5 separate regions of the Homo sapiens genome follow, and regions 1, 3, 4 and 5 are each linked to region 2. Evidence: fine-mapped expression QTL. A gene starts in region 2. Each other region holds a variant in brackets. All regions are shown on one strand. Distances are between the middles of the regions.

Region 1 (6,545 bases), 42 kb before region 2:
CAAGATCACAGCACGCATCGGGGCCCATTTGGTGCAGGCTCCCATCCCACGGCCCCCTGCCCATGCGCCATGCTGTAGCATGTGTAATTCCTATCAACTTTCTGAAAATAGCAGGCTCCAGGCCTCGTGTTGCATACTACCTGGAACACCTTCCCTCTTCCTTCTCAACTGGCTGCATCTGACTGATCACTAAAGATGCCATTCAGGTGCCTCCTCCAAGAAGCTAGCTGGGTCATATGCACCTCCACTGGTGGGACGGGGAGAGTGGACAGAACGCCTATGAGAACATGTGCCAGTCTGTATGTTTCTGGTGCTGATCTCCTTGACTAAACAGACTTTTATTATTACTGAGATAGGATCTTATTCTGTCACCCAGGCTGGAATGCAGTAGCACAGTCACGGCTCACTGCAGCCTCAACCCCTTGGACTTAAGAGATCCTCCCACCTAAGCCCCCCAAGTGGCTGGGATGACAGGCACATGCAACTATGCCGGGTAATTTTTAATTTTTTATTTTTAGGAGAGATAGGATCTCGCTATATTGCCGAGGGTCTCGAACTCCTGGGCTCAAGCAATCCTCCTGCCTCAGCCTCCCAAAGTGCTGGGATTACAGGTGTGAGCCACTGAGCCTGACCTGGACTTTTTTTTTTTTCTAATTTTAGATTCAGGGGGTACATGTACAGGTTTGTGACATGGATATTCTGTGCAATGGTGTAGCTCGGGCTTCTGTAAACGAACTTCTGTAAAGGTGGAACTGGATCCCTGACCTCTAGCAGTGCCACCCAACAGAAAGGTATTTAGAAAGTGGCTGGCTTGGCGGGGCATGGTGGTGTGTGCCTGCGGTCCCAGCTGCTCAGGAGGCTGAGGTAGGAGAATCTCTAGAGCTTGGGCAGACGAGGCTGCAGTGAGCCGTGATCAGCGCCACTGCACTCCAGCCAGGGCAACAGAGTGGGACCCCCATCTCAAAAAAAAAAAAGGAAAAGAAAAAAGAAAAAAAAGTGGCTGGCTTTCTAATCATTCATCTTCAGACTTTCCAATCTGTACTCAATGCTTTTGGTTTTAGGTTTTTGTTTTTCTAATAACATATTTGATGAAGAAGTCCCATCTGATGCAGAGGAGACTTGCATGTGGAAAGGAGTTGTCACTATTTCTTAAATTGTGGCTTCACTGGCTTCATTACCTGCACCTTCTCTTCTCACAAATATATGTCATTTTTATTTACCATGACATTTGAGAATTTAGTAAAAGTTAGTGGAGCAAGTTAGTCCCCTTAGTTGCCTACAAGCAGCTCTAAACCCAGGTGTTTTTTTGTTTTGTTTGTTTGTTTGTTTGTGACGGAGTCTCTCTCTGTTGCCCAGGCTGGATTGCAGTGGCACAATCTCTGCTCACTGCAGCCTCTGCCTTTCAGGTTCAAGTGATTCTCCTGCCTCAGCCACCCAAGTAGCTGGGATTACAGGCGTGCGCCACCATGCCAGGCTAATTTTGCATTTTTAGTAGAGATGGGGTTTCACCATATTGGCCAGGCTGGTCTCGAACTCCTGACCTCTGTTGATCCACCTACCTCAGCTTCCCAAAGTACTGGGATTACAGGCATGAGCCACTGTGCCTGGCCACCCAGGTGTTTTTAATTTTATACACAGGCTGCTACAAGCAAACCAATGCTGGGAGATGGTCATGCAGCTCAGGTCAACTCAGGGTACCCTCAACCTAAAATGTGAGAGGAGAGCTGCAGAAGCAATGGACGAGAAGGGAGCAGGGGTTTTAATATCCCCCACACATCTTCCAGCTTCTACTCTGCTCACTAATTTCATTTTGGACAAAAGCTTGTTGATTCTTCTTACTCAGGCTAGTTACCTGCATTATACTGAACAGAATTCCTCCAGGGAACAGCCTCTTGGCTAAATCAACATACACCTGCCATTCACAGATGCAGGGTTTCTAGCAAGATTCTAGAGCAGGGTCCCCAACCCCTGGGCCATGGATCAGTACTGGTTTGTGGCCTGTTTGGAACCTGCACAGCAGGAGGTGAGCGGCAGGTGAACGAGTGAAACTTCATCTGTATTTGCAGTTGCTCCCCATTGCTTGCATTTCCCCCTGAGTTCCGCCTCCTGTCGGATCAGCAGTAGCATTAGATTCCATAGGAGCATGAACCCTATTGTGAACTGCGCATTTGAGGGAGCTAGGTTGCATGCTCCTTATGAGAATCTAATGCCTGATGATCTGTCACTATCTCTCATCACCCTTAGATGGGACTATCTAGTTGCAGGAAAACAAGCTCAGGGCTTCCACTGATTCTACATTATGGTGAGTTGTATAATTATTTCTTATATATTACAATGTAATAATAATAAATTGCACAATAAATGTAATGCACTTGAATCATCCTGAAACCATCCCCCTCAACCCCTGGTTCATGGAAAAATTGTCTTCCACAAAACTGGTCCCCAGTGCCAAAAAGGCTGGGGATTGCTGTTCTAGAGCCTTTGTCTTTCAGATAAGGTAGACCCTGGCTTCACTTCTAAAAGGAAGATAAATGACTTTCTAGTGATATTTGCCCATTTTAGACAAATGTTTCTGCACCTTAGACTGAGGGCAGGTAGGCAGGATCATTGCTGGGGTGGCTTCCTGCTTGAACATTGTAGTTTCTTTGAGTTGAAGGTAGAACATTAAGATGTGATCACTGAAGGAGGAGCATCAAGCACAAATGAGCTCCTGATGTAGTTTACACAGCACTTGGGTGGAAAGGGCCATCCCTTTCCCTCTTTCCTTATGGAATTGGGAATCCGACAGTAAGTGGCCAATGAAAATGTATCCTCGCTGGTCACAGTGGCTCGTGCCTGTAATCCTAGCACTTTGGGAGGCTGAGGATGGAGGATCGCTTGAACCCAGGGGTTGAGAGAAGCCTAGGCAATATAGTGAGACCTGTTTCTATAAAAAAATAAAAATTAGCTGAGCATAGTGCTGCACAGCTATAGTCCCAGCTACTTAGGAGGCTGAGGCAGGAGGATTACGTGGGCTCCATTGCATGGAGTCCAGGAGTTTGAAGCTGCAGAGAGCTATGATTGTGCCACTGCACTCCAGCCTGGGCAAGAGTGAGACCCTGTCATTCTGACCCAGGTGTTATTCCGAGCAGCACTGACAGCATTCAGGGCTAGGTCATGCTTGGTTCTCTTGGCAGAATTTTTTCTTTGGTTTGGGGATATCGCCTGTACATGACAAGACAAAGGGGCAGGAGGAATGGAAGCCTTCCAGCATCGTTCACATTGCATGCTTGGAAACACTACTTGGGGGTGGAAAGTGAATGCATCTTTGTGGCATCTGAGTTCCCAGCAAAGGGTGTCTGCTGAGCTGAAGGCAAAAAGGGAAGGGGGAGAATTTTATAGAATAGGACATCTGGGGCACTCACATGGAGGGAGATTTAATACTATTTAGTCCCTGGCATTATTTCTCTTTCCTTAAGTTTACACTTTTTAAATTTGAAATTGAGAAATGATCACATTTAAATAGCAATGATTAAACATGTAGTTGATCCAGTTACTTTGTCATCCTTTATTTAGAAATGTCCGTAAGTAAGTGATCTCTAGTCTAGGAGGCAGATGGGTTCTGATGACCTGGGAAGAACTCTGTTGTTACCAAGGCTAAATCTCCACAGGTGTTTCCAAGACCCAAGGGTCACAGCTGTGTGCCAGTAGGAAAAGAGGGGTGGAAAATCGACTCCAAACGGCCAAATGGGCGTTACATCCTAGGCAAATGCCAACCTAAATGTAGCCCTTTGTGTGGTCAAGGCTGTTGTCAAAAGCAGAAAAAGCTAGCTCTAATTTCTCCAAACCAATGTCCAGCTCAGTGTTCCAACTGCCAGCTGCTCCGGCCCCTTAAGGTGATAACTCAGGGCCCAGAGTGACCTCTCTTGCTCCATTGGAGCCAGCCAAACCCTTGTGGATTTTTTTGTACTTACCTTTGACAAGAGGAAATCTCTGCAAACCTCTGTGTGCAGTTCCAGAAACATGTTTTACTTTATCATCATGCTCAAA[G/A]ACTGCTTTGTAAGCTCTCTGCATTGGGGGTAAGCTGGTTAGCATTTACCTAGTATTTGTGTTTATTAAGTTAGTCTTTGCTCTCAAAGAGTTTATATTGTGCGTGTGCGCACACACACACACACACTCTTTTTTTTCCACTTAAAAACAGAAGAATGAATGAGTGTGTATGTGTTTAGGTGACACTGAGAGGTAATGTTACCAAAACACCAGTGGTTCGGTCTTGATCCTGCTGCTGTTCACCACACAGAAAGCCAATCACTGAGATAATCAGTACTGCCAGGGAAGAAGGCTTTATTCAGGTGCTGCAGGTGAGGAGATGGGAGATCAGTCTCAAATCCATCTCTCTGACTGACTAAAATTAGGGGTTTATATAGCAGGGAAGAAATGTAACCATGCATGGGAAACAGGAATTAGAGAGAGGTAAGGATGAGGAATTGGTCAACAGGAAGCAGGGGGTCAGTAGTTATCATGATGGGTGAGGGGTCTGGTGTTTTATTGCCCAGATGCAGTAATCTGGTAAGTTTCAGCTCTGTGATACTATCTCAGAGGACTGATGGTTGGTTTCCTGAGAAAGGAGCTCAGATAAGACAAATGTAACTTTCTTATGTTTCAAGACTGGGAAGGGTCAATTTCTATGTTTATTCAAAAGAAACCATAAACATCAGTTCTATGGGCAATTGGACTGATCAGTCATGTAGCAATAAGATACCCATGAATACATCTTTACTATCATGAACAAGTCTTTGTGTAACACTTGGGCGAAGACTGGAGGAAACGGTATGGTTTTTCTATTGGGAGGGTGGATAAGGGGGAAAAAATCATTAGTTTTATTCTTAGAACAGATGAGGGTGAAGATGTAACACGGTTTGATGGACAGGAAATGGAAACTTGCTACAGTGGGACTGGTGGAAGAGCAGAGGTGTGCTTTGTGAGGTTCTGGGGGTCTGTGTGGGTGGGAGTAACATCCTAGCCTGGAGAGGGCTGGTTTCTTCTTGTTCTTTTTGTTTTGTTTTGTTTTAGAGACAATTGCAGTGCAGTGGCACAATTGTAGCTCACTGTAACCTTTAATTCCTGGGCTCAAATGATCCTCCAGCCTCAGTCTCCTGAGAAGCTAGGACCACAGGCATGCACCACCATGTCCAGCTAATTGGTTAACTTTTTCTTTGCAGAAATGGGGTCTTACTGTGTTGCCTAAGCTGATCTCAAACTCCTAACCTCAAGTGATCCTCCCACCTTGGCCCTGCAAAATTCTGGGATTACAAACATGAGCCATTGTGCCCAGCTGAGGGCTGGTTTCTAGAAATGGTGGTATGCCAGGCTTCATACTGGGGTCATGCATGTGGACTGGGCTCATTGGCCTGATTGCTCTAGCAATATGTGGGGTAGGAAGAATCATGCCCCCTCTCTCCTCCTCTTCGAAAAATGTCCACATCCCAATCCCTGGAAGCTGTGAATATGTTCAGTTATATGGCAGTTGGGAATTAAGGTTGCGAGTCAGCTGTCCTTGAGATGGGGAGATTATCCTGGACTATCCAGGTGGGACTTTTGTAATCGCAAAGGTCCTCGGAAGTGAAGAAGGAAGTCAGGAGAGTCAGTGTCAGAGTGATGCCGTGGGACACAGTCTTCAGGGCTGTTGCTGCCTTGAAGATGCAGGAAGGGGCCGTGAGCCAAGGAATGCAGGTGGCCTCTAGAAGCTGGAAAAGGCAAGAAAATGGATTCTCCTTGAGAGCCTCCAGCAGAAATGAGGCCCTGCCAACACCTTGACTTGTAGCCCAGTGAGACCCAAACATCTAACATCTAAAACTATAAATAAGAATTTGTGTTGTTTTAAGTCACCACGTACATAGTCATTTGTTACAGCAAGCTATAGCAAACAATCCAAATGGAGACCTGTCTCTGGTTTGGAAATGCGAGACATTCTTATTTATTTGTGGAATATAATATAATGGAAAATTTATGGAATATAAGTAACTCCAAGAAGATTCTTGTCAACATTAATTCTGAGATTTTTCTAAGCTAATTTATTTTACTACAGTAAGGCCAGGAACTTTATTGCTTTGCTGTTGTCTCCTCACTGCCTCGATCAGTGCCTAATTCATTCCTTTTTGAATGAATGAATCTTTTCTAACCAAACTCATGAAAAACCCTAAGAAACACCCCCCACTTTTTTTGAGACAGAATCTCATTTTGTCACCCAGGCTGGAGTGCAGTGGATCACAGCTCACTGCAGCCTCAACCTCCCAAGTTCAAGTGATCCTCCCCACTTGGCTTCCCAAGTAGCTGGGACCACAGGTGCACACCACCACGTCTGGCTAATTTTTTAATTTTTTTTTTGTAGAAATCAGGTCTTGCTATGTTGCCTAGACTGGTCTCAAACTCCTGGGCTCAAGTGAACCTCCCGCCTTGGCCTTCCAAAATGCTCTCATTACAGGTGTGATCCACTGTGCTTGGCCCCACCTTTTCAAAAAAAAATTTATGCTAAATTGTAAATGTTAAATTGAGGCTCTTGTTAT
Region 2 (6,545 bases):
GGATTATATTTGAAAGTTTCATTTGAAGTAGGTTTGTTTTTTGGGGTTGGGATGCTTTTTCCTTGGAAAAAATACTTAATTAAACTTTTTTTTTTTTTGAGACAGAGTTTCACCCTTGTCACCCAGGCTGGAGTGCAATGGCATGATCTCAGCTCACTGCAACCTCCGCCTCCCGGGTTCAAGCAATTCTCCTGCCTCAGCCTCCCGAGAAGCTGGGATTACAGGCACATGCCAGCCACCATGCCTGGCTAATTTTTGTATTTTTAGTAGAGACAGGGTTTCACCACGTTGGCTAGGATGTTCTCAATCTCCTGACCTCAGGTAATCCATCCGCCACAGCCTCCCAAAGTTCTGGGATTACAGGTGTGAGCCACCCCGCCCTGCTTAAACTTTTAATTTTGAGATAATTATAGATTCAGATGTAGTTGTAAGAAATAGTACAAAGTGATCATGAGGGCTTTTTACCCAGTTTCTCCAGTGATAACATCTTGCAAAGCTATACAATAGTATCACAACCAGGATATTGACACTGATGTGGTCAATCCAATAGAAGAGTTCCAGAACAGGGGTCTCTCATGTGGCCCTGTTAAACCACCTCATCCCCATCCCTAACCTCTAACAACTCCCATCTCTTCTCCATTTCTATAATGTTGTCATCTGGGAAATGCTATGTAAGTGTACTCGTATAGTATCTAACATTTTGGGATTGGCTTTCTGTCACTCAGCATAATTTAATTCCCTGGATTCTTATCCAGGTCGTGGAACGTACTAATAATTTGTTCCTTTTTATTGTTGAGTAGTATTCCATGGTATGGATGTACCACAATGAGGATTGGGTAGAAGCTCATTGCTTTTGCCTAGGGGTGTCTAATTGCTCTAGCACTGTTTGTTGAATGGCACAGAAATCAGTTTGGCATATTCATGTGGGCCTGTCTCTGGGTTCTCCAGTCTGTTCCACTGATCTATGTTATGTGTCTCTCTTTTTGCCAATGCTGTGTTGTCTTGATTACTGTAGTTATCCAGTAGGCCTTAATATGGGATAGATTCATTGCTCTAACTTTTTTCTTCTTTTGAGACGGAGTCTCACTCTGTGGCCCAGGCTGGAGTGCAGTGGCATGATCTTGGCTCACTGCAACCTCTGCCTCCCAGGATTGGGTTCAAGCGATGCTCCTGCCTTAGCCTCCCTAGTAACTGGGATTACAGGTGTGCACCACCACGCCTGGCTAATTTTTCTGTATTTTTGATAGAGACAGTGTTTCACCATGTTCATTAGGCTGGTCTCGAACTCCTGACCTCAGGTGATCCACCCGCCTCGGCCTACCAAAGTGCTGGGATTACAGGCATGAGCCACCACGCCCAGACTAACTTTTTTCTTCTTTTTCAAGATGGTTTTTAGCTATTCTAGGGCCTGTACCTTTACTATAAATTTTAGAATATCTGCCAAAAATCACTGTGAGGCCAGGCAGGGTGGCTCACACCTGTAATCCTAGCACTTAAGAAGGCCGAAGTGGGAGGACAGCTGGAGCCCAGGAGTTCAAGACAAGCCTGGCCAACCTAATGAGACTCCATCTCTACAAAAACTAAGAAATTAAAAAATTAGCCCAGTGTGGTGGTGCACATCTGTAGCCCCAGATATTCAGGAGGCTGAGGCAGGAGGACTGCCTCCTGGGGAGGTTGAGGCTGCAGTGAGCCATGATTGCACACCTCTACTCCAGCCTGGACAACAGAGCAAGACCATGTCTCAAAAAAACAAAACAAAACAAAACAAAACAAAAAAACCTTGCAAGATTTTGATAGGAATTTTGTTAATCTGTAGATCAGTTTGGGGACAATTGACATCTTTTGTGTGTTGATTTTTCTTCCAATTCATGATTATCATCATTGGAAAGAAGTGAGTATGATGAGTCTTCTAAGCCAGGCAGATAGCAAAAAAATTAGGAAAGTAAATGGATTGCACAGGAAGAATTAACTGGGATTTAAATAATCAAAGACAGAAAGGATATATAAAAGAAGTGACGAAGGAGATTTACCCTATTAGACTCCAGTGTATTAATCTAGGACAGTTTGGTTGCTATGGGGAAGCAGTGTGCAAAAACTTAAGAGGCACACAAAAGACTGATGTTTATTTTGTGGGAGTGAATCTTTTTTTAGGAAGGAAATAGCACTATTGTGGTAACAGTGATTCATTTTCTCCTCCTATCTTCTCTTTACAGAGAAGACCCAAATAGTGAACTGTTTCATGTAAGTTTTTATTTATTTTTGCCCTACTTTTCTCTAGGGAGGGGCTTACCACAGCTTATAAAAATACGTAAAACAAGATCAAATAAACTTTAAAATGAGGAAAAAGCCAATATGGTCCAAGGGAAAAGAAGATCAGGGTCAGGACTGAGATTAGGATGCAAAAGCCATGCTATGAAATTTTGTTTGTTTGTTATCTTGAGATGGGTAAAAAAAAAAAAAAACAGTTGACTGGGACAAATACCCCTAGCACAAAACAGTCATGAAGCCAATGTTTAATTATTATACCTGTCATCTTTTCACCTGGCCTCAGGACTGTCCTCTTAGGGAGAGGCATTGTTCTGTAGGGTTAATTAGTAACAGGAATTTAGATCCTGCTTTGAGAGGCCTCCTGTGCTGGCCGAAGCAGCTGGTGGTCTGAGAACCCTGACACCCAGAGGCATACCACTGGGAGGCCCCGCGCAGCACACAGCTTTTGCTGTACTCCAGCCCAAGTCTTATGGGGTTTGTGGTTTATACTGAAGTTGGTGCAGACAATTAAGACTCTCTGTTCTTGGTACCGACAGGGACAGAGACCTACAATTGTAAGTATTTTGTAAACAGGGTTGTGATATTTGTTTGAGTGTATTCAACATGTCAGTGGCCTTTTAATGTTTAAAAAAATGCATATGGCCATTTAAGAAGTGGTTGTGCTTCATAGTTAATATTTTTTTCATTAGGTTAGGTTCATCTGGTTTTTCAGTGAGGTGAGCTACCTGAGAGCCATAGGAAGATAGATCTTGCCAGTTCAGAGGACTGACTTTGGCTTTAAGAGAAAATATTTGTGTCATTTTCGAGAAAGTACTTCCAGCACAATGCTTTCTTCTGATGATTCATTTTCTACAGTTATTGGAAGTGGGAAGAAATCCACAGAGGTTACAGAATTTGTAAACTTGTAGAGACATGTGCCATTATATCATGCTGTTTCATAGATGTGTATGTCTGTTAGTTACTTTTCGGGCATTCATTGTATATATGTCTGTTACTTACTTTTGGGGTGTTCAGTGTCTGAGCTTTGTCAACGATTGTGTGCTCTTTTTTTAGCCTAAAAAAACTAAGTTAGAGAAATGTTTGCTCATCCAAATCTGTATTGTTGTAGCTTATTCAGTAGACTGCTGTTGTATTTTTAATTTCTCTATACAACAAGCTGAAAGACAGTGTGGACAACCTAATTGCATTTGAAGTAGCTGCTGGCCAGGCCTGCTGCAACAGCTGATGGGCTCCTCTGAATTTCCAGGGCTATTTCTGGTAGATGAGCTGGTATCAAGGCTCTCGAGTTCAGGCCATAAAAGGCCCGTCCCATGTGAAGTTGCTTCACTGCTCTGACTGCGTCCTCCCCAGGCTGAAGTGTCCTCAGGTTTCATGTGGATTTGCCCAGTAATGGATGGCTCCACCGAGGCCAGGTTGGGGAAGTTCAGCCTCGAGGACACTAGGGGACGAAAAACTTCAAAAAGAAGACTCTTTTTATTAATATTTTGGCGTTCTTTTTGGAGAGGAACTTTTGGGATGTAGCCTTTACCTGTTTCCTGAATTTGACATCCAAAAAGCCTTTTGGAAAACACCATTCTAAATTTATCCTGTTCTGAATCATCATCGCTTCTGATAGATGCAGTTGCTTGCTGACATCGTGATCTTTGATTTTGTACAACGCTATTTGGGCTAACTTTTGGGATTTTACTTTGTGCTTAGAATTTGAAAGTAGTATTCATTGGAAAGAGACTCCAAGAAAATACTCGAAGACATCAAAAGCTGGATTCGAGGGTATAACGTGTTTTGTTTTGTTTTTTAAATTAGAAAAATAAGGAATTGCAGTGTGATTTTCTTTCCCCCTTTAACTTAGAGGAACGAGGATTATACAGAAATTTGAAGTAAGTGAAAAATCTTCCTATAAATCTAAATGCAGTAGGTTTTTTTTTGTTGTTTTTGTTTTTGCTTTTTTTTAAGTGCCATCTGTCTGAGCATGTTTCCTGAGGATTTGTTGACTTCAGTCATTGGAAAATTCCTGCCAGCGTTTGCCAGTTACTGCAGCCATTCCTGTAGATACCCTTGGGCATATTTCTTGGGTTGAGAAGGATTGGACTTTTTTTTTTTTTTAAAGGATTTACTTTATGGTAGAGAAAGGTTTAATACTAAAAATTTGATTAATATAACTTAGTACATTCTGTCTAAATGTTAGCACTTAAAGTCTTGGAATTAAAGTATATTCACAATGCAACGTACTTTAATAATCGTAGCACAAGTATGGGGGTGGAGTTCAGAAGGGCAAGTTTTATTTCACTGCCATTATAATTCATGTAAAAATAGAAAATCACCAGTGATCCTTTTGCATAATCTTTGTTCTGAGGGTTCTTTGCCTTGGTACTCTCATTCTTCAGGGCTTGATTTCTAGAACTTGCGATGTTCCAGAATTTATGAGAAAAACCTCACTGTAGGTTCTAGAGTTTGAACTGCATTTTATTTTTAAATTCTCCAAGAAAAAATACTGCATCAGCCTTTTAAAGCCCTGGAGATTGCTATGGTCTCTTTGTAATTTAGCTCAGTGATTTGTTTCTGCTGAAAAACAGCAGTGAACTCTAGAACATAGAAGGCTTATTTGACGTGTTGCTTCTTTGAAAAAAAAAAAAGATTATTTCTTTATACCACATCAGATGGACAAGTACGGGCAGTCATTATTTTTACCAGGTAGGAAAACAGAGTATTTATAGAGAAGAACTTCATCGGTGAATACTGCGAGGGTTCTTCACCGGAGATAGTGTGGCAACCCTAGGGGGCGTTTGAAAATGCATGGGGGTGTTTCAGGTTTTCTCAATGACTCACTGGCATTTGGGAGGATGTGGTTAAGAATTGTAAATGCCCAATTTACATGGTGTAGGGGACAGTCCCATACAGCATTACCCTGGCCAAACTGCTGGTGGTATCCCCTGTTGAGTAAAACTGCAGGATATAAATTGTACCCTCTGTCTCCAAAGAAGAGCAGCCCAGTGCCAGGCAGATGTGTGCTGTCTCTTCTCACCAAAACCAGTGATGTCTTTTTTTTTTTTTTTTTTTTTTGAGATGGAGTCTCGTGCTGTCACCCAGGCTGGAGTGCAGTGGCACGATCTCGGCTCACTGCAACCTCCACCTCCCAGGTTCAAGTGACTCTCCTTGCCTCAACCTCCCAAGTAACTGGGATTACAGGCACCTGGCACCATATCCAGCTAATTTTTTTTTGTATTTTTAGTAGAGACGGGGTTTCACTATGTTGGCCAGGCTGATCTTGAACTCCTGACCTCGTGATCCGCCCACCTTGGGCTCCCAAAGTGCTGGGATTATAGGCGTGAGCCCCTGCACCCGGCACCCGGTGATGTCTTGAGGATCCAGGGCATCAAGTGTGCACTAGTGTCAGAGAATTTGTCTTACAATGGAAACTTTGGAGTCTATACTCTGTGTGTGTGTGTGTGTGTGTGTTAAAGATAATTTATTTGGTCACCTTGATCACTGGATGAGGCTGATGTTATACAAGCTATTGTAGTACATTAGGTGCCTTCCTGCCTACCTTTATTTAGTACTATTGGTGCATTTAATTTTGCCACATGCATAGTCTTCCAAGTGAAATTTGGTTAATGCGCTCAGCTTGCAGTGGACATCAGTCAGCCATTCAACAAACAGTTCTTTATCTTTGCTTCTACTTTGGAGACAGACTGTTTTGTGATAAACAGACTTCTGGAAGACTTTGGAGTTCAATTCAGAGTGAACATCTTTGGCAACACCTGGGGTTATATAGTATTCTTTTTTTCTTTTTTCTTTTTTTTTTTTTTGAGATGGAGTCTTGCTCTGTTGCCCAGGCTGGAGTGCAATGACACAATCTCAGCTCACTGCAACCTCCACCTCTTGGGCTGAAGTGATTCTCCTGCCTCAGCCTCCCTACTAGCTGGGATTACAGGCATATGCCACTGCGCCCAGCTAATTTTTGTATTTTTAGTAGAGACAGGGTTTCATCATGTTGCCCAGGTTGGTCTTGAACTCCTGACCTCAGGTGATCTACCAGCGCTCGGCCTCCCAAAGTTCTGGGATTACAGGCATGAGCCACCACACCCGGCGAGTTATTTAATATTCTACAGTTGAGGAATTGCATCCAAAGGAAAGGGCCCTTGGGATTTTTATAAGGATGTCTGGTGAGCTCCAGCATGCAGGGCTCTCGGGCTACATGGAGCGTTATGGAGAGTAAGCTGCTAGGAGCCTTGTGATTGTTAGGGTACAAAGGCAGCCTTGGAATCATCTCCTGAATC
Region 3 (6,545 bases), 80 kb before region 2:
GGGATTTCACCATGTTAGCCAGGATGGTCTCCATCTCCTGACCTCATGATCCACCCGCCTCGGCCTCCCAAAGTGCTGGGATTACAGGTGTGAGCCACTGCGCCTGGCCACGAAACAGGTGAAATTAATTTAATTATATATTTTCTTTAACTCAGTCTACCCAAAATGTTATTTCAACATGTAATCAATGTAAAAATATTAATGAGACATTTTTTCTTAAATTTTATAGTAAGTCTTAAAATTTGATATGTATGTTATAGCTATCAGATACTACATTTTTATCTGAAATACTTGGTCTATATTTAGCTTTTATAAAATTTATAGTTGAAAAAGTATATTTGTTAACCAAACCCCAAATATACAAGTTCTCCAGCAACTGAACTCAGCATCAAAAAATCATTCTCCACGATATTCGCATTCAACTTGACAAAACTGGTTCATCTTTTTTAGAATAATTAATTTGACTTTTTGAAACAAAAAATATCAGTTTCAAAGCTACATCTGTTCAACTTAGGCAAATTCACTAACTCTTATGCCAGCTCAGAATTGTTGACATTAAATTCAAAGGAATATTGCAAAAATGGAAAAACTAACTCTAAATTTATCAATATCAACAAAGTATTCCCCAACATTTTCTTATGGATTTTGAAGGCAATTTATATAATGCTTTTGATTTCAGTGAAGTCATCCACATATTGATTCAAGTTACAAAAATGTATGAAACCATTATTTTTTACTTCTCTTATGAAAAATGTCAATTTTGACATAAATTCTCCTGCCTCTCTAGCTAGGTCATAAGTAAGTTTTTCCTTTCCTTGAAACTTTAAATTTAGCTCTTTCATATATAGTGTGTGATATCTGTGAAAAAAAACATAAATCACACTGCCTATTTTTTTTTTTTTTTTTTTTTTTTTTTTTTTTTGAGAGAGAGTCTTGCTCTGTCGCCCAGGCTTGAGTGCAGTGGCGTGATCTCGGCTCACTGCAAGCTCCGCCTCCCGGGTTCACGCCATTCTCCTGCCTCAGCCTCCCGAGTAGCTGGGACCACAGGGGCCCCCCACCACGCCCGGCTAATTTTTGTTTTTTGCATTTTTAGTAGACAGAGTTTCACCATGTTAGCCAGGATGGTCTCGATCTCTGACCTTGTGATCCACCCGCCTTGGCCTCCCAAAGTGCTGGGATTACAGGCGTGAGCCACGGCTCCCAGCCCACAGTGCCTATTTTTGTCTTCATTTCTTGCTTCAGCAAGCATTCTTTTTTTGTAAAGAAAATCCTGCATTGTAGTTAACTGTACAGTGAATGTTTGTAAAAATTCTTCTATGATTCAACCAGAGATCATTGGCAAAGAACACATGATCAATCATTTCTGGTTTTCTATTTCTTTCAGCAGTTCCATAAACTGCTTCAAGAATCCAAGATGTTTTATAACTGGCCAGAGTTATGAGCTGAGATGTAAAAAATCATTAAAACAATTTTTTTGGCCATTCTTATTTTGAGTGACTAATTTCATTGATCTGTTTTTGACTGTCGAGGGGAGATGGCATCAAATTCATTATGTTTTTGCTGAAATTGTCTGTTAATATTTTCTGCTTTATTATCTTTGACTTTTTATGTAACACACAGCTTTCTCCTTTTGCTCTGCCACAGCAAGTTATAATTGCCATTGATTATGTTGCTTTTTGCTTACCTTCCTCTCCTGTCTCTTTTTTTCTTGACTGTTCTGATTGTATTATTAATTTCTGTGTCTCCACTGGATTTTGTATCAGTCCTAAGGCTTTGGAAAGTGTCTCTGTGTTAGGACTGCTACAAAATTTTCAAAGTGATAAATTAGAAAAATTGGCCATATTTATTTTATAAACTAGAGAAACAATGTAATTATATCTTAATTAAAACAAGTATTTTGATATAATTACCAATTATGATTTACATAGTTATCACCATAACTTGTGCTGTCTGTGTAAAATATTCATATGAACACATTACAGTGTTACATCAGTGTTTAGAAAAAAACATTTAAATGGAAACACTTTATTGACACCAAGTAGATCAGTGATGCTTTCCTTTGTAGACTCATCTGCTACAATGCACCAAATAATATTTTAAGCAATATAGTATTTAAAGTAAAATGTAGTTCTACCAAAGCAATGCATTAATGTTTAATGGAACATGTTTTACATTGCTTCAGTTTTTACATTTAAATAAAATCATGTGAAATTAATTAAAAGTTGACATTCAGTTCCTCAGTTGCACTCACCAACTTAAGTAGCCATGTGTGCCCATTGGTTCTTGTATTGGACAGCACAGGCCAGGGGCTACTTGCATTTGAACCTAGGAACCTTGTATCAATAACTAGATGGTTGCTCACTTTTCTTGCCCAGCAACTACATCTTCCTTGCCTTGTCCCATGGCACTCAGGAATTTTAGGAGTTTGGCAAATAAAGTCTTGTACAATTAAGTGGTCTCTGAAGGTCTCTTGATGACCATGACTCTTGGACAACTTCCCACTGTGCTAGGCCATTAGGACAAGTCTGGGGACAACTTCTGACTCCAGGGACAGTCTGTGGGATGTAATAGGGATTAGCTTGGGACAAGGCCAAGGCAGAGTTTATAGGTCAACTGCAGCTACTCTTCCTCTTCCCATGGGTTACTAACCAATGACTCAAGAGCAATCTGGCTTGATCTTAGTTGGATGGGAATGTTGTCGGCAGAGGTAGCATTCTCATTGTTCTGGAAGGAGCAGGTTTCATTTTCACACCAATCACGAGAGTGTTAGGGGAAAGCTGTCCCTTAGCTAAGTTGGCTAGGAAGGTTTTCAAAAATCCATCTCAATTAATCATCATAGGCTATGAAATGACACCTGAAAAATATGAAGAAAATGGAATGGGTGGTTTGTGTGTTGAATACAAAATAATGATATAAAGCATTCTAGAATTCAGAAACCAACTTATGAACCAAGATGTTATTTTCAGAGTGGATATACTCACCTTGCCTGGACCCTGATTAAACTCCTCCTCTTTTTTTGTTTAAAGTTCAATTTATATTCTGACCGTTTTCTTTGTTTAGAGTTATATTGCTTTGGTTCATATTTTTGTACTGCCTTCACAAAATATTAGGGGTGTTTACTTAGATCTTAGGTTTCTCAAGTCTTTTTCTTCCTTCCTTCCTTCTCTTTTTTCTTTTCTTTTTCTTCTTTTTTTTTTTTTTTTTTTAATTTCAGACAAGGTCTTTCTTTGTTACCCAGGCAGGAGTGCAGTGGTGCAGTCTCAACCTCCTAGGCTCAAGTGACCCTCCCACCTCAGCCTCCTGAGTAGCTGGGACCACAGCTGTGTGCCACCATGCCCAGCTAATTTTTAATTATTTTGTAGAGATGGGCTCTCACCATGTTCCCAAGGCTGGTCTTGAACTCCTGAGCTCAAGCGATCCTCCCACCTCAGCATCCCAAAGAGCTGGGATTACAGGCATGAGTCACCACGCCCGGCCAAGCCTTTTTCTTTTGTCTCTGATCCTCCTAAACTTTCTTTTATCTCCAAAACTCTTGCTCTGTGCTTTGTACACTGCTGCATGTTCAGATAGAGCTTAATCTGTACTTACTCATCACTGATGATTCATAAAATACAAAGTGTGCTTTAGTAACACTGAATAGTATAGTCTAGAATCCTAAAAAAGTTGAGAAAAAGACTTTGTTCTCCTTATTTTCTATTTTTTTCTATTGCTCCACCTTGTATTAGAAATTAGGAAAGACTCGTGGTGAATGTGTCCAATCAGTTCACCTCACCTCATGTTGTTTCTAAATAAAATAATAAAATCTGAACCCATAGTCTTCGCCTTTTTTGAGGTTTAAGTATTGGTTCATCTATGTCGTT[A/C]TGTAATTTCAAAGTGCCTTCCGGAAAATCCCTCGGGATGGAGATGACTCAGGATAGCTTTGCACTGGTTTGTTATGGGGCCATCTAAATGAAGGAATGGCCCTCTGAAATGGCAGCAACAACCCTAAGCTGCCTGGGTTCCAGTCCCAGTTCTGACACCGTCTAGGTGAGTAGCCTCAGCCAAGTAACTTCCCACTCTCTAAACCTCATTTTTCTGTCTATACAAGGTAGGAATTAGATGATGACATTGCTTCCCAAGCCTTCCCACCCAACACTAGTGGCCCTTGAGATATCATTGATTGGGTGCTTCTCCAGTATATCCATGGAAATTGGAGAAATGCTGTGTGCTGAATTCTATTCCATATTTGGCTTCCAAAAGCTCATAAGCACATTAGAGACTGCAAGAAGCCTTGAAGTAAAGAAATCTGCTTAACATTTTTAAACCTAGCATTTTCTAAACTCTTTGAACTGGAAACTCTCCCTCTTTTGGAGGAAAAGCTTCAAGTATATTGGAGTATCCTGTAGTACATAGTTTGGGAAATGCTGGAATAGATCAGTGGTCGGCAAATAGCAGCCTGCAGGCCAAATCCCTCTTGCCACCTGTTGTGTAAATAAAGTTTTATTGGAACACAGCTACACTCATTCATTTATGAATTGTCTATTTGCCCCAGAATAGCCAAGTTGCAGAGTTGTGACAGAGACCTGTATGGCCCATACTGCCAAAAATATATTTACCATCTGGTTATTTACAGAAAAAAAAAATTTGCTGACTCCTACACACAGGATTATTTTCAAAGTGATTCATGAACATGGCTGAAAAAATCAGATCGTGGAGGAATGCTGTAAATGAAAAGCAATAGCTTTGTTCCAGAAGCAACACATTTTTAATGGTTCCTGTTAAAATTATTTTAGTGGTTATTACTAATAGTTGTATAACTCCTCACTCAGCCGTTTCTGATGTATGTGCTTTGGGTTGCCTCTGTTTGATAGACCACGTTCACATGCACACACACACACACACACACACACACAGAGGCATGTACAACTTCTTAGTTTTATCAGTACATGAATTCCTCTCTTGATTACCACTGCAGTTTTTTTTTTTCTTTTTTCTTTTTTGAGATGGACTGTCACTCTGTCGCTTAGGCTGGAGTGCAGTGGTGCCACCTTGGCTCACTGCAACTGCCTCCCAGATTCAAGCAATTCTCCTACCTCAGCTTCCTGAGTAGCTGGGATTATAGGTGCCCGCCACCACACCCAGCTAATTCTTTTGTATTTTTAGTAGAGACGGGGTTTCACCATGTTGGCCAGGCTGGTCTCGAACTCCTGATCTCAAGTGATCCACCTGCCTCAGCCTCCCAAAGTGCTGGGATTACAGGCCTGAGCCACCGTGCCCAGCCCTACCATTGCAGTTTTAATGTTCATAAACCTCTATATCTTGTTGCATTTATTTCCTACCTATTAGGTGCCAAATTTTATAAGATGAGGGGACTAGTACCACTAACCTTCCGCATTCCTCTCTTTTCCTGTTGTCCATCTTTCAGCTTTTCTCAGCTATGTCTTTATTTTTACAGTGTTGAGTCTGATAACATTTGCCTTCTCTATCTGGAAATATTTTCCTTGCATTGCCCATTGATTGAGTCTAAAGGTTGCAAGCTGTCTTAGTCCCTTTAGTGTTGCTATAAAGGAATACCTGAGGTTGGGTAATTTATAAAGAAGAGTTTTATTTGGCTCACGATTCTGCTGCTGGAAGATTGGGCATCTGGGGAAAGCCTCAGGCTGCTTCCACATATACTGAAAGGCAGAGAGGAGCTGGCATGTGCAGAGATCAGATAGCGAGAGAGAAGGCAAGAGAGAGAGGAAGAAGGTCCCAGGCTCTTTCTAACAACCAGCTAAGGTCGCAGGCTCTTTCTAACAACCAGCTCTCCTGGGAACTAATAGAGCAAAAATTCACTCACTGCCTCCCCGCCCCCCAGAAAGAGCATTAATCTATTCATGAGGAATCCACGCCCATGACCTAAACACCTGCCATTAGGCACCGCCTCCAACATAGAGGATCAGATTTCAACAATGTTCCAAAGGGTCGAATATCCAAACCGCAGCACAAGCCAATGAGCAGTGTTAATGTAAATACTGTCTGTAGAAGAGCCAAGCAGTGCTTGCTGTGATTATACTTCCCTCTCTATAATTCTAATATCACAACTGCAGCATCACTCAAAATAGATAGTTCTTAATATCTTTTTCTTTAAAATTTTTTAAATTTTTATATTTTTATTAAAATATATAAAAAATATTGAACACGTCATGAATTTGCATGTCATCCTTGCGCAGGGGCCATGCTGATCTTCCAATTTTAGTATATCATTCCAATTTTAGTACATGTACTGTAATCCACCTGCCTTGACCTCCCAAAGTGCTGGAATTACAGGCATGTGCCACCGTGCCCAGCTGCTCTAATATCTTTTCCAATTGAGTTCATTCTGCTAATTTTTACCAGTTGCTCTAAATCATGGCACTTTTTTTTTTTTTCCTTGAGACAGAGTCTCACTTTGTGTCACCCAGGCTGGAGTGTAATGGCGTGATCTCGGCTCACTGCAACCTCTACCTCCCGAGTTCAAGTGATTTTTGTGCCTCAGCCTCCTGAGTAGTTGGGATTACAGGGTGCACCACCACACTTGGCTAATT
Region 4 (6,545 bases), 53 kb after region 2:
TCAGGTTCTATGGGTTATGGCTCATGGACCAAAGCTGCACATGAGGCAAACGAACACCTGGAGGAGCCTGCGTTCAGGATGGGGCAGTGACCGCGCTCAGAGCGCTCTGGCTCACATCCCTTGTCTAAGCGGCTTCTCATTCATTGAGCTGAGGCGTCGGACACCTGCCGGGAAGACAGACGCGAACCGCGGCTCACTCTGACTCCTGACTGCTCCGGACCCCGGCTTCAGTTCTCCCCTCCCTCCAGAGATCTTGGGGCACCAGGGCTCATAAGCTGCTGCATGAGAACAGGGACGCTCTTACTGCTGGAGTCAGATTCAGAGTGTGTGTGTGTGTGTATTTTTAGCACAGTTGGGAGATGACATCTGAGATGCTGCTGGCTCAGCTCTGCTGGTGTCTCTTTTGAGCATGGAGCGGTGTCCTCGTTGTCTTCTTTTCATTGCTTATATCTGCTGCTTGCTGTTCAGGGAAAGCACAAATTCACTTTCTCCTCTTGTTAAAAAAATAGTTTGGCGGGCGTGGTGGCTCATGCCTATAATCCCAGCATGTTAGGAGAATGAGGTGGAAGGATTCTTGAGGCCAGGAATTCAAGGCCAGCCTGGGCAACATAGTGAGGCCACTGTCTCTATAAGGAATAGGCTGGGCATGGTGACACACTCCTGTAATATCTGCACTTTGTGGGGCCAAGGCAGGTAGATCACTTGAGCCCAGGAATTCAAGACCAACCTGGGCAACATGGCAAAACTCTGTCTCTACAAAAATTAGCCAGGTGTGGTGGCACACACCTGTGGTCCCAGCTGAGGTGGGAGGGTCACTGGAGCTCAGGAGATCAAAGTTGCAATGTGCCATGATCATGCCATTGCACTCCAGCCTGGCCAACAGAGGGAGAACCTGTCTCAAAAAAAAAAAAAAGGAAGAAGAATAAAAATATTAGCTGAGCATGGTGATGTGCACCTATAGTCCCAGCTACTTGGGAGGCTGAGGTGGGAGAGGACTGCTCAAACCCGAAGTCGAGGCTTCAGTGAGCTGTGATTGCAGCACTGCACTCTCTAGCCTGGGTGATGGAGCAAGACCCTGTCTATTTCTTTAATGTATTTTCTCACCACCTGAAGACCAAGCAGCATGATGTATCCCAGCTTGATGTCTGGGTGTGACAAGTATCTGAATTTTCTTTTTCCACTTGGGCTACAGGGATGGCTCTGATGCTTCTTCACGGGCTGTCCACGGCCTCCCTTCCCACCTCAGAATGCCCTGGCTGGGCCCACAGCACGTTCCGTCTGAATGTGGGTGGCTGTCTTGCCGAACCCGTGTCGACTCCATGGGAAGGCCGCAGGTTAAAGAGGCCGAAGAGGAGACCCAGAGCCAGTGAACGAGGCACGGGGTTCTGTTGTGGGCTTGCATACAGGGGAGAGAGTCCAGTGGCAGCGGGCTGAGTGGGAGAACCACAACCGCTTTCAAAAGGCATGCAGTTTATATAGCAATAGCATGTCCACTTGGCACCTCCCCGACAATCTCCACCTGGCAGCCTTCACATACCCCAAAACAAACAGTCCAGACCCCCTGTGCATGCAGTGGTGGCAGCAGGGCAGGGAAGCTGCTCAGATGTTCCTCATAGATAAGGAACGAATCTCCAGTTGGCCTCTCCTGGATTCCTTAGCTTGGAACCCTGAACCCCATGCAGGTGCCGCTGCCATACAGGGCCATTCTCAGGGTGTGCCTAAGTGATTGCTGTCAGGCGCATTTACCATGCAGAGGGATGGGACCATTTAAGCCCACGCCCCGGTTAGGCCTCTTCCCAGTTCCAGCTCCCACACTGTCCGCTCTTCTTCCTGGCACGGAGGTGAGGGCCCATGGCCTCCCTGTTCACCTATTGCCATCATCTCCTCCACAAGTAAGCTCTCCAGTCTCGTCCTCCAGGAAGCCTTCCTTCGTCACACTCACCCCATCTGATTATGCTGTTTCCCTGTTTCTTCCCAGGCTTTATATCATCGGTGGCTTGTATTCATGGTTTTCTAATTCTGTGGGCGTATCCTAATCACCTGTGGTGGGAGGACTTTCATTTTAAACAAATACCGCAAGTGGTCTGAGGGCCACCCAAGTTTGATATCCTTTGCTTAATCAGATGTTACACCCACGCATAAACGTGTCTTGAGTCATTTCAACAGACAGTGTGGAATGTGCCTTTGATTTATTTTGTGTCATGACCTCCCCAAGGCACCTGCACTGTGAGCACGGGATCTGCTTTCCTGGTGCAATAATATGACCATGAAGAAAGCCAATCATGAAAGTGTGAAATATCACAAACACGCCCTCCCCTACCCCGCATCAATCAGCAAGGGGCTGGGGACCTGTTCTGAAAGACTGGTAGGTCTTGGGTACCAGTTAATACAACCCATGGAGGCCGGGTGCAGTGGTTCACACCTGTAATTCCAGCACTCTAGGAGGCCGAGGTGGGAGGATTGCTTGAGCCCAGGAGTTTGAGACCTGCCTGGGCAACATGTTGAGATCCCATCTCTACAACAAATACAAAAGTTAGCTAGGCGTGGTGGTGGGCCCCTGTAGTCCCAGCTACTCAGGAGGCAGAGGTGGGAGGAATTGGCTTGAGCTTAGGAGGTCGAGGCTGCAGTGAGCTGTGATTGTGCCACTGCACTGCAGCTTGGGCAACAGAGCCAGACCCTGTCTCAAAAAATAAAAAATAACCCATGGAAAACAAGGGTGACACTGGAGATCACAGGTTGATGAGCTTTTCTTGCATTTTCATACTGATTATTATTGCTGAGATTGTCATTGTTGTTACTTTATTAAGATGCCCTTCTGAGAACAAGGAGAGCCAGAAATTACTTTATTTGAAACTTTCCTTCAAATTATTGGAGTCTAGCTCTAGAACAGCTATGATCTATCTGGTACCAACAGACATTTTATATATGTGCTTGTCTGCTATCTGGACTTTTAGACTCACAGGAAATTCTCCTCTGTGA[C/T]GACTCAGTGTTTCCCTGCTTTCTGTTCATGTGAAAACCATCAAGTAGTGAGCACTGAATGACTGGATTTGGCAGAGCCTTCTCCGCTCTCCCTGGACGATTGTAATCAAGTCAGCCCCTTCCCCTCTGCATGAGGTCTTCTTCTCACGAGAGGAGAGGCATGGGCCCCCGCAGCTCTGAAGGTGTGGCATGCTGCACCTTATGTCCTGGGATGCAGCCACAGACCCCATACAGTGAACACCTAGGTTTACTATTATTATTATTATTATTATTATTATTATTATTATTAGAGACAGGGTCTCACTCTGTCACCCAGGCTGGAGTGTAGTAGCATGATCAAAGCTCACCACAGCCTCAAATTTCTGGGCTTAAGTAATCCTCACTTCTCAGCCTTCTGAGTGGCTGGAACTACACCATCATTCCTGGCTAATTTTAAAATGTTTTTGGTAAAGATGGGGGTCTCACTATGTTGCCCAGGCTGGTCTCTAACTCCTGGTCTCAAGCAGTCCTCCTGCCTCAGCCTCCCAAAGTGCTGGGATTACAGGTGTGAGCCACCGTTCCTGGGAACAGCTAGTTTTATGTTTATTCGTCACATCATTGTTTAAGAGCCCTTTGTGGGTTGGGGCTTTGAACAGGTCAGAATCGTCCTTGGCGTCTCCTGGCCTCTGGCAAGTGGTGGGCCGGCCATGTGCCCCTCACAAGAGCTGTTCTCCAGGTGCTCAGCATGTGCCTGCATTGTATGTCAGCTGTGATTTGCCCTCAGTGTACATTTTATTGTAGATTGCACTGAAATATACACACCATGACATTTACCATTTCAACCACGTTTAAGTGAACAGTTCGGTGGCATTTAGGTGCATTCGCTCACAGTGTGCAGCCATCACCACCATCCCTCTCCAGAACTTTTTCATCATTCCAAATGGAAACTCTACCTATTCAACAACTCCCCAATTTTCCCTCTGCCCAGCCCCTGATAAACTCCCTTCTACTATCTGTCTCTGAATGTGACTGTTCTAGAAACCTCATATAAGTGGGATTGTACAGTATTTGTCCTTTGGTGACTGGCTTATTTCACTTAGCATAATGTCTTCAAGGTTCCTCTACATTGTAGCAAGCATCAGAATTTCCTTCCTTTTTAAGGCCGAATAATATTCCATCATATGTATATTCAGTGTGTAATTTAAACACAGAACTGACCTATGTCTTTCTTTTCTGACAATCAGCTGACCATTCTCTCTTCCTCTGAGGTACCTGAATTTTTCTTTCCAAGAGTCATTAGCCATAGATTTGGAATGAACCAGAAACTAAAACGATTGGAGATAATTTCATTACAAATGTTAACATTACTCTTTTGAACATTAACTTTAAAGACACTAATAAGTCTTTTAGGTGATTGCAATAAGCCTTTTCTTTAAAAAAGAATTCTGAAGTTTAGAAAGGCTGGCATGGTTTTCTTTCAACACATCCGATAAAGAAAAAATAGCTGTGACTTGCAACATTTCTTATTGAACGTACTTTGCCTTTTCATCTCCACCTATGTGGTCTGTTTCAAATTACCTTATGCAGTGATGTAATGCAACATTTTATTTGCACGCTTGTCCAAAATATTACCACTAACCAAAATTCACAGAGCATCTCACAGTGCACGCAGGAGGAGAATTAGACTAAAATGAGGAATCTGGAAAGTCTGACTGACCAGTGAGATGTGATCAAGGGGAAATGAAAGGGCCTAAGTGGGCTTTCCCTAGGGGCAATTTTCTCAGGTCAGGCAGTTCTGCCTCAGATTAAGGATCTGCACACATAAAGAAAATCCACCAAAGAAAATGAGAATACCATTTATGGCTGTTGCTAGCATACAAAATGCTCCTTTACTGGGCTATGAAAATATGTTCTTCACTTTGGAATTTCACTCCAGCCATCATCATTAGTAGCTTATAGTAGATTTCATTAAAATCATTTCCATAGCACTTCTTGATTTTGGAAATGTATTGATAAGTCATGTCAGTATGTATTCAGACAACTGCTAGTCATAATATCACACTCCCCTATACTGTACATTTAAATTCCAGCTCATGGTTGGTTTGATGGCTCACGCCTGTAATCCCAGCACTTCGGGAGGCCAAGGTGGAAGAATCACTTCAGGCCAGGAGTTTGAGACCAGCCTGGGCACATGGCAAGATCCCATGTCTACAAATTTCAAAAAATAGCCAGGCGTGGTCCCAGCTACTCGTGAGGCTGAGGTAGAAGGATGGCTTAAGCCCAGGAGGTTGAGGCTGCAATGAGCCGTGTTTGTACCACTGCACTCCAGCCTGGGCAACAGAGCCAGACCCTGTCTCAAATAAATACATACATACATACATACATTAATTAGTTAATTCATTCATTCCAGCTCATTTTCCTGTAGACTGGGAGTGCTTTCATTGATGTTCACTGAGCACAACAAGGTGACATGAGGTGACATCGTACGGACCTCTGGAGGAGCATGTAGTGCACCTGAATCCCTTTTCAATACGGAGTTCCTTGTGTGGATTAAATAATGCAGTCCATTTTTGGAGTGCTTCTATACGTGTTCTCTCATTTTATCCTGACCTCACCATCCTATTTCCCTCTTTGATTTTGTTGTGGCTGGCCAGGGAATGGCTGTTTTGCCTTTATTAAAACAATTTTTTTAGAGACAGGGTTTAATCTGTTGCCCACACTGGATGAGTGCAGTGGCGTGATCATAGCTCACTGCAGCCTTGGCCTCCAGGGTTCAAACGCTCCTCCCACTTCAGCCTCACAAGCAGCTGATTACAAGTAGGGATTGCAGGCATGTGCCACCATGCCCAGCTAAATTTTTTTTTTTTAAATTTTTTGTAGAGACAGAGTCTAACTTTGTTGCCCAGGCTGCTCTCGAACTCCTGGCTTCAAGCAATCCTCCTGACTTGGCCTCTCAAAGTGCTGGGATTACAGGCATAAGCCACCACCAGGCCCTGTTTTGCCTTCAGAGATGTATTTTAAGTTGTTGGTCTACGCTTGATGTATCTATCCTAGGTCAGGCACTATCCTGGTTTTCTCATCTGCATATGAGGATAAGTCACCGAGAAGACTAAAGGAATTAAATACTCCAGGACCCTCAGCCTTGCATCCGCCCCCCAGTGATGAGCCAGGGGAGGTCACAGGCACCATCCTGTTCGGCCCTGGTGGGAAATGGCTGGCTGCAGTGGAAGTGCTGGCTACTTCCCTTTCCCTTGGCTTTGCCCTCGTTTTCTCCCCCAGGATGATGGCCCCCAAAGGAGAGTTGCCTCAAAGGACAGCGTTGCAGGGGTGCTTGTGTGTCATCAGCCAGAACAAGTGACAGCGTCTGACTCCCCAAATAGCCTCCCTGTAAGTCTGAGCTGCCGCTGTGACCTGCGCTACACAGTCCCTGAAGGTTTAATACCGTGACTGTCATCTAACGCCTTAGCTTTTGACCTTGTCAATTTGGGAGGTGACACGTCTCACCTGGACTCATACTGAGACATTGTCAATAGTTGGACTGCAGGAATCATTGTCCCCGTTTTTGTTTTTTGTTTTTTGTTTTGTTT
Region 5 (6,545 bases), 130 kb before region 2:
TATAGATTTTTCACACTAGTATAGCTGGTGTGTCACATGCCAGTTGCAATAACACCAGCCCAATATTGATTGAACACATGCTATAGGCCAAGCAGTGGTCTGGTACATTATGGTCCCACATGAACCCTCATAGCCTGTGAGTTAGGTATGATGATCATCCCTAAAACTGAGGAGCTGAGAGGTTATGTAGCTTTCTCTAGGCCACACAGCAATTAATGGGATCAGCTGAGATTTGAACCCCAGCATATCAGGTTATAAGCCTGAGGATTAACCAATATGTTACATGGTGCCTTTTCCGTGTGGCCCAAGGAAAAATATCTGGGAAGGAAGAGGCTGCCACTGAGCTGCTCTGGGCCCAGCCCCGTGCAGGTGCAAGACTCCCAACCTGCCTGTTTTCTAGTGGCCTTATCTGATGCTCTCTGGGATCCCTGATGGCCACCTTTAAACTCCAGGTAGAGCTGGAGGCATGGGGTTGAGAAGTCATTTGCCTGGGAATTTCCGCCATGTGAAAGGAAGCAAATGAGGCCTCTAAAGATGACTAAGGCATATGGTGAGCAGCTGGAAATCTGTGCACGGATTGACAGATCCACTGCTCTTCCCTCTTCGTCCCGTGCCCTAGATCTGCTGCTAAGTCTATACCTGCTGTGATACCCAATAGGATCATTTAAGGGGCAGATGAGCTGAGATAAAGAGAATGAGCTGACTCTTAATCCATGCCTTAACTATAAACCTCTAAACAGCTGTTAGCCCTGCCAACCCCAAAAAAGTAAAAACAAAAGATTGCTTTAGGAAGTTGCTCCTCACATGAGCCTGGCTTTGCTCAGGTTGCAATGCCAGGTTAGCATAGGGATGGCAGAGTGTCCCTGCTGTCACCACGTCTATGTAATCAGTGTCCTGTGGACAGAGCCAGCAAGAGCAGTGAGAGTCTGAGCTGTGTCTGGATGCCAACATCAATGCTTTTTCATCAGCACACTGGTTTATAAATAAGCCATCTTCTGGTCTACCCTGTTGGATTTTTTTCTCCAAAGCCACTTGGTTCGTGAAACTACCTGGATGGTGGAAATGGTGAGATTGAGGGACACTTCAATCCACAAAACGTTGCTGAATTCCAGTCCTCTTTTTGTAGTTGCAGGTATCTTTACACAATGTGATTTGCATTATTTTTGCAAAAAGACTGAGATGGGAACGCTTATGAAAGAAATGCATATTGAAACAAAAAAGGGCGGGGCGAGGTGGCTCATGTCTATAATCCCAGCACTTTGGGAAGCCAAGGGGAGCCGATCACTTGAGGTCAGGAGTTCGAGAGCATCCTGACCAACATGGTGAAACCTCGTCTCTACTAAAAATACAAAAATTAGCTGGGCATGGTGGCGCGTGCCTGTAATCCCAGCTACCTGGGAGGCTGAGGCATGACAGTTGCTTGAATCTGGGAGGCAGAGGTTGCAGTGAGCCAAGATTGTGTCACTACACTCCAGCCTGGGCAAAAAGAGCAAAATTCTGTCTCAAAAAAAAAAGAAAGAAAAGAAAAGAAACAAAAAAGACTTTTCTAAACACAACAATTGTCAAAGACTTAAAAATTTAATAAAACCTCGGGTACATGAGGATGTAGAGAAATAGTCCTTTTGCACAGATTGCTGATAAAATATAAACACCTCTGTGAGGCTGAGCCTGGTGACTGGCACCTGTAATCCCAGCTCTTTGGGAGGCAAAGGTGGGTGGATTGCTTGAATCCAGGAGTTCAAGATCAGCCTGGGCAACACGGTGAAACCCCACCTGTACAAACAATACAAAAATTAGCCAGGCGTGGTGGCATGTGCCTGTAGTCCCAACTACTTGGGAGGCTGACTTGAGAGGATCACTTGATCCTGGGGAGGTCAAGGCTGCAGTGAGCCATGATCATGCCACTGCACTCCAGTCTGGGGACAGAGTGAGACCCTGCCTCAGAAAACCTCTATGAAAAGCATTAGGAAATATCTATTATTTGCATAAGTGTGCAAAAATATATGCATCAAGAATTTTTACTGCAACACTGGCAATTTTTAAAAATCTGGATATAACTTAAATATCTATCAATAGAAACTTATATATAAAGTACATCTATAAAGACAATACTATGCAGCTATTAAAAAGAATCAAGCTGGCTGGGTGCCATGGCTCACGGCTGTAATCCCAGCACTTTGGGAGGCCTGGAGGAGGGTGGATCACTTAGGTCAGGAGTTTGAGATCAGCATGGCCAACATGGTGAAACCCCATCTCTACTAAAAATACAAAAATTAGAGGGGGGTGGTGGTGGGTGCCTGTATTCCAAGCTACTCGGGAGGCTAAGGCAGGAAATCACTTGAACTCAGGAAGGCAGAGGTTGCAGTGAGCCAAGATCATGCCACTGCACTACAGCCTGGATGACAGAGCGAGACTCCATCTCAAAAAATAATAATAAAAAAAAGAATAAAGCTAATCTATATGTGTTGAAATAAAATATGCCAAGATATGTTACTAAATACTAAATGATTATTTAAAGGAACATATAATAGTGAATACATATATAAGGCTATGTTGAAATATGTATTTTCAACATTTGTGTACGTGGAAAACTCTGGAAGGACATGCAAGAAACTATTAACAGTGGTTATTTAGGTCACGGGAGGTATAAGAGAAAAAACTTTTATTTTTTATCTTTTGCATCCTTCTATTTGAAGTGTTTACATGGGCATGTACTTCATTTATAATTTTTTAAAGCTGACTTCAATTTTTTAGAAAGAGGAACAGTGACAATTCCTGGGTCATACTCAGAATTTCCAC[A/G]CATCTCTTTTCTGGAGAACAAACCACAGATGGTTCCCAAGGCTGAAGACAAATAGTTGCACAGAAGAGGAAAGAACTTAAGTCATGTTATCCACTAGGGCTTGTTTTCCTACTGTCCTCAAAAGTCCTTCTAGTCTTTTTCATTTGTTGCAGAAAGTTTTATCATGCATTTATAATTGCCGGTTTCCACGGAATTTCTCACGTGTCAAGTGAATCTAATTGGGAGTTCCATTCCGCCATGGCCCTGGCTCAGCTCCAAGCACCATCAATAATGGGTAGTGGAGGTTGGGGCTGCTGGGCCTCCCTGGACCTCCCCTTTCGAAGGGTTGAAGAACTCTGACACTCAGAAAAGAAGCCCCACTAGTCCCCAAATTGTGCTTCCTGGAGGCCTGTTCATATTGGTTCAAAGGAAAAGCAAGTTTACAACTGAATGTGTCTGAGAGACAGCAGAGCGTGGTGCAGTGGCCCGAAACATCTCCTGGTTTCCTCTCTGTGAGCGGGTAATTGCCTGATTATGTAGCCTGGATGCGCACGGCTCAGTGCATGGCTCAGAGCAGAACGTATCATGGGGTGCGAGTGATGTGTTCTCAACCTCTCTTCAAAAAAACTCTAGGCCAGGCACAGTAGCTCACACCTGTAATCCCAGCACTTGGGGAGGTCGAGGCAGGAGGATCACCTGAGGTCAGGAGTTCAAGACCAGCCTGGCCAACGTGGGGAAACCCCATCTCTACTAAAAATACAAAAATTAGCTGGGCATGGTGGCGGGCGCCTGTAATCCCAGCTACTTGGGAGGCTTAGGCAAGAGAATCGCTTGAACCCAGAAGGCTGCAGTGACCCAAGATCACACCACTGCACTCCAGCCTGGGCAACAAGAGCGAAACTATGTCTTGAAAAAAAAAAAAAAACCTCTAGCAGGAGAAATCACTTTTGCATTAAATTTTGCATTTCAGATATATTCTCTAGTGACCACTGAAACAATTACATATCTTCTTCTTTTTTTTTTTTTTTTTTGAGACGGCATCTTGCTCTATTGCCCAGGCTGGGCACGATCTCGGCTTACTGTAACATCCACCTCTTGGGTTCAAGCAATTCTTCTGCCTGCTTCAGTTTCCCAAGTAGCTGAGACTACAGGTGCTTGCCACCATGCCCAGCTAATTTTTGTATTATTAGTAGAGACGGGGTTTCACCATATTGGCCAGGCTGGTCTCGAACGCCTGACCTCATGATCCACCTGCCTCAGCCTCCCAAAGTGCTGGGATTACAGGCATGAGCCACCGCACCAGGCCTGAAACTATTACATTTCTAAGAGAGGGTTTAATGTTTGCCTTTTCATAGGATTTAACATAATAGTTATAAGTACTAGACAGTGTAATCACATCAGACCAATCTGGTTCAATTTTTATGTAACAAAGTTGTTTTTCAGTTGTCATGGCCCCCAGGTCGAAGGTCACATAACCTGAGCATGCCCAGATGAACCGACTGTGCAACCACAGGAGGAACCTAAGTGCTCAGAGGAGCGGAGACTGAATTAAGAAGCGCACACCACATGGCAGGATCCACAGTCCAATCAGATAGAGCTCTAGTGTCACCGCCTGCCAGATCCAGTCAGATTGTGCCTCCTGGCATCAACACATTGCAAGATCCAATCAGATTGCACCTCCCCACCCTATGTTTATAAAACCTGACCCAGCCACCAGCTGGAGAGACAGATTTGGGAGTTTCCTCCTGTCTCCTTGCCAGTCAACTTTCTTTTCTCAAAAGCCAGTGCCCTGGTATTGGTCTCTATGCACATTGGGCAGAGAACCTATTGATTGCCCAGCAATAATAGCATTTATGTATGTATGTATATATATATGTATTTATTGTTTTTGAGACAGAGTCTTGCCCTGTAACCCAGGCAAGAGTGCAGTGTCAGGATCTTGGTTCACTGCGACCTCTGCCTCCCAGGTTCAAGTGATTCTCATGCCTCAGCCTCCCGAGTAACGGGGATTACAGGTGCACGCCACCATGCACTGCTGATTTTTTGTATTTTTATTTGAGATGGGGTTTCACCATGTTGTCCCGGCTGGTCTCGAACTCATGAATTCAAATGATCCACCCACCTCGGCCTCTCAAAGTGCTGCGATTACAGGTATGAGGCACTATGCCTGGCCAATAATAGTATTTATATAAGTGATAAGTCACCTAGGTGACTTTCCAACTCAGGAAAAGGACCAGTTGGAGAAAACAAGGTAATGAGACCAGAGATCTTCGGACAGGGAAGGGGGACCCTCTGTCACTGGGAAAAGCTCCTTAACCAGGTCCAACACCCTTCCTGCCTACTTCCTCCTGTCCAGCCCTCACCCATCCACCCATGGTCGGTAGATGTGGGAGAATCAGAATTGAGGTGAGGTTGGGGAGGTGAGTTTTAAAAGCTCTAGGCCAGGTGTGGCAGCTCAGGCCTATAATCCCAGCAATTTGGGAGGCCGAGGAAGGTGGATCACTTGAGGTCAGGAGTTCGAGACCAGCCTGGCCAACATGGTGAAACCCTATCTCTACCAAAAATACAAAAATTAGCCTGGCATTGTGGCAGGCACCTGTGATCCCAGCTATTCAGGAGGCTGAGGCAGGAGAATCGCTGAACCCGGGAGGCAGAGGTTGCAGTGAGCTGAGATCGTGCCACTGTACTCCAGCCTGGGTGACAGAGCAAGACTAGGTCTCAAAAAATATTAGCCCGGCGTGGTGGTGGGCACCTGTAATCCTGGCCACTTGAGAGGCTGAGGCAGAAGAATCACTTGAACCTGGGAGGTGGAGGCTGCAGTGAGCTGAGATCCCACCACTGCATTCCAGCCTGGGCCACAAGAGGGAAACTCCATCTCAATAAATAAATAAATAAATAAAAGCTCCTGAGGGCCTCATCCTGGGATTCCTTCCCCTCCTCAGAGCCTGCGGTGAAAGCAACTGACAAAACCACTCCCTGTGGGGCTTGGCACTCTGCTTCCTTTTCTTCCTCATAAATATCTCAAAGACTATTCCTTTCCCCGGACACAGACAGACCAGACGATGTCTCTAAATTCATAGAGCTGGAAGAGAAACCAGGTGACCCTTTCCCCTTCCATTTGCAAAGCTGTATATGCACTTATGATATTCCAATTTTACTTTGCATGAAACCCCCCAGGTATTACTATGAAAAATGTAAATCCCTGAGCATTTTTCTCAGAGATGCTGACTCCATTGACATTGTGAAGGGTTCAGAAGTCCACATTTAAAATAAGCAGGTCAGGGTATTCAGCAGCACACTCAGGAAAATGCTGACCTCAGCACAAAGGAGTTGCTTAAACGACAACAAATTCATGAATGAACTGATAAACTAACATGGATGCTTATGTTGTTAATATTCTTTAATTTGTACACTTATTTTACACATACTATTTTAAATAAATGATATAGTTCACAATTTGTAAAAGCTTTGTAAAAGTTTTTTTTTTTTTTTTTGACTCAAAGTTATGCTCTGTCACCAGTCTGGAGTGCAGTGGCCTGATCTCAGCTCACGGCAACCTCTGCCTCCAGGTTTAAGCAATTCTTGTGCCTCAGCTCCCCAATAGCTGGGACTACAGGCACCTACCACCACACCTGGCTAATTTTTTTTTTTTTTTTTTTTTTTTTTGTATTTTAGTAGAGACAGGGTTTCACCATGTTGCCCAGGGTGGTCTCAAACTCCTGAGCTCAGGCAATCCGCCTGCCTTTGCCTCCAAAGTGCTAGGATT

Alleles and levels. Alleles are on the strand shown, and positions count from the first base shown. SD is a standard deviation of normalised expression in the study named. Not every link is listed here.
In carriers of allele C in region 4, the expression in fibroblasts of the gene that starts at base 3,594 in region 2 tends to be lower than with T alone (moderate effect, 0.40 SD a copy in GTEx).

Evidence for each region. PIP is the estimated chance that this variant, and not a neighbour inherited with it, causes the effect.
Region 1: its variant is fine-mapped to the expression of SVIL in whole blood (TOPMed, PIP above 0.99).
Region 3: its variant is fine-mapped to the expression of SVIL in fibroblasts (GTEx, PIP above 0.99).
Region 4: its variant is fine-mapped to the expression of SVIL in fibroblasts (GTEx, PIP above 0.99).
Region 5: its variant is fine-mapped to the expression of SVIL in whole blood (INTERVAL, PIP 0.98).

What each region holds. Positions count from the first base shown.
Region 1 is chr10:29,673,989-29,680,533 of GRCh38, reverse strand. It overlaps a transcript of SVIL not described here. Among named protein-coding and RNA genes, the nearest start is that of SVIL, 42 kb to the right of the region's middle. The variant G/A (reference allele first, on the strand shown) is at 4,030.
Region 2 is chr10:29,632,020-29,638,564 of GRCh38, reverse strand. SVIL (supervillin) reads left to right here and starts at 3,594. Exons shown (of 38, transcript NM_021738.3): 1 at 3,594-4,145. RefSeq lists a silencer at 3,491-3,785.
Region 3 is chr10:29,711,610-29,718,154 of GRCh38, reverse strand. It overlaps a transcript of SVIL not described here and the pseudogene RNU6-908P. Among named protein-coding and RNA genes, the nearest start is that of SVIL, 80 kb to the right of the region's middle. The variant A/C (reference allele first, on the strand shown) is at 3,861.
Region 4 is chr10:29,579,455-29,585,999 of GRCh38, reverse strand. All of the region lies in intron 1 of SVIL (supervillin), which reads left to right. Among named protein-coding and RNA genes, the nearest start is that of MIR938, 20 kb to the left of the region's middle. RefSeq lists enhancers at 1-190, 191-691, 969-1,468, 1,469-1,970. The variant C/T (reference allele first, on the strand shown) is at 2,980.
Region 5 is chr10:29,759,878-29,766,422 of GRCh38, reverse strand. No RefSeq gene overlaps it. Among named protein-coding and RNA genes, the nearest start is that of SVIL, 130 kb to the right of the region's middle. The variant A/G (reference allele first, on the strand shown) is at 2,800.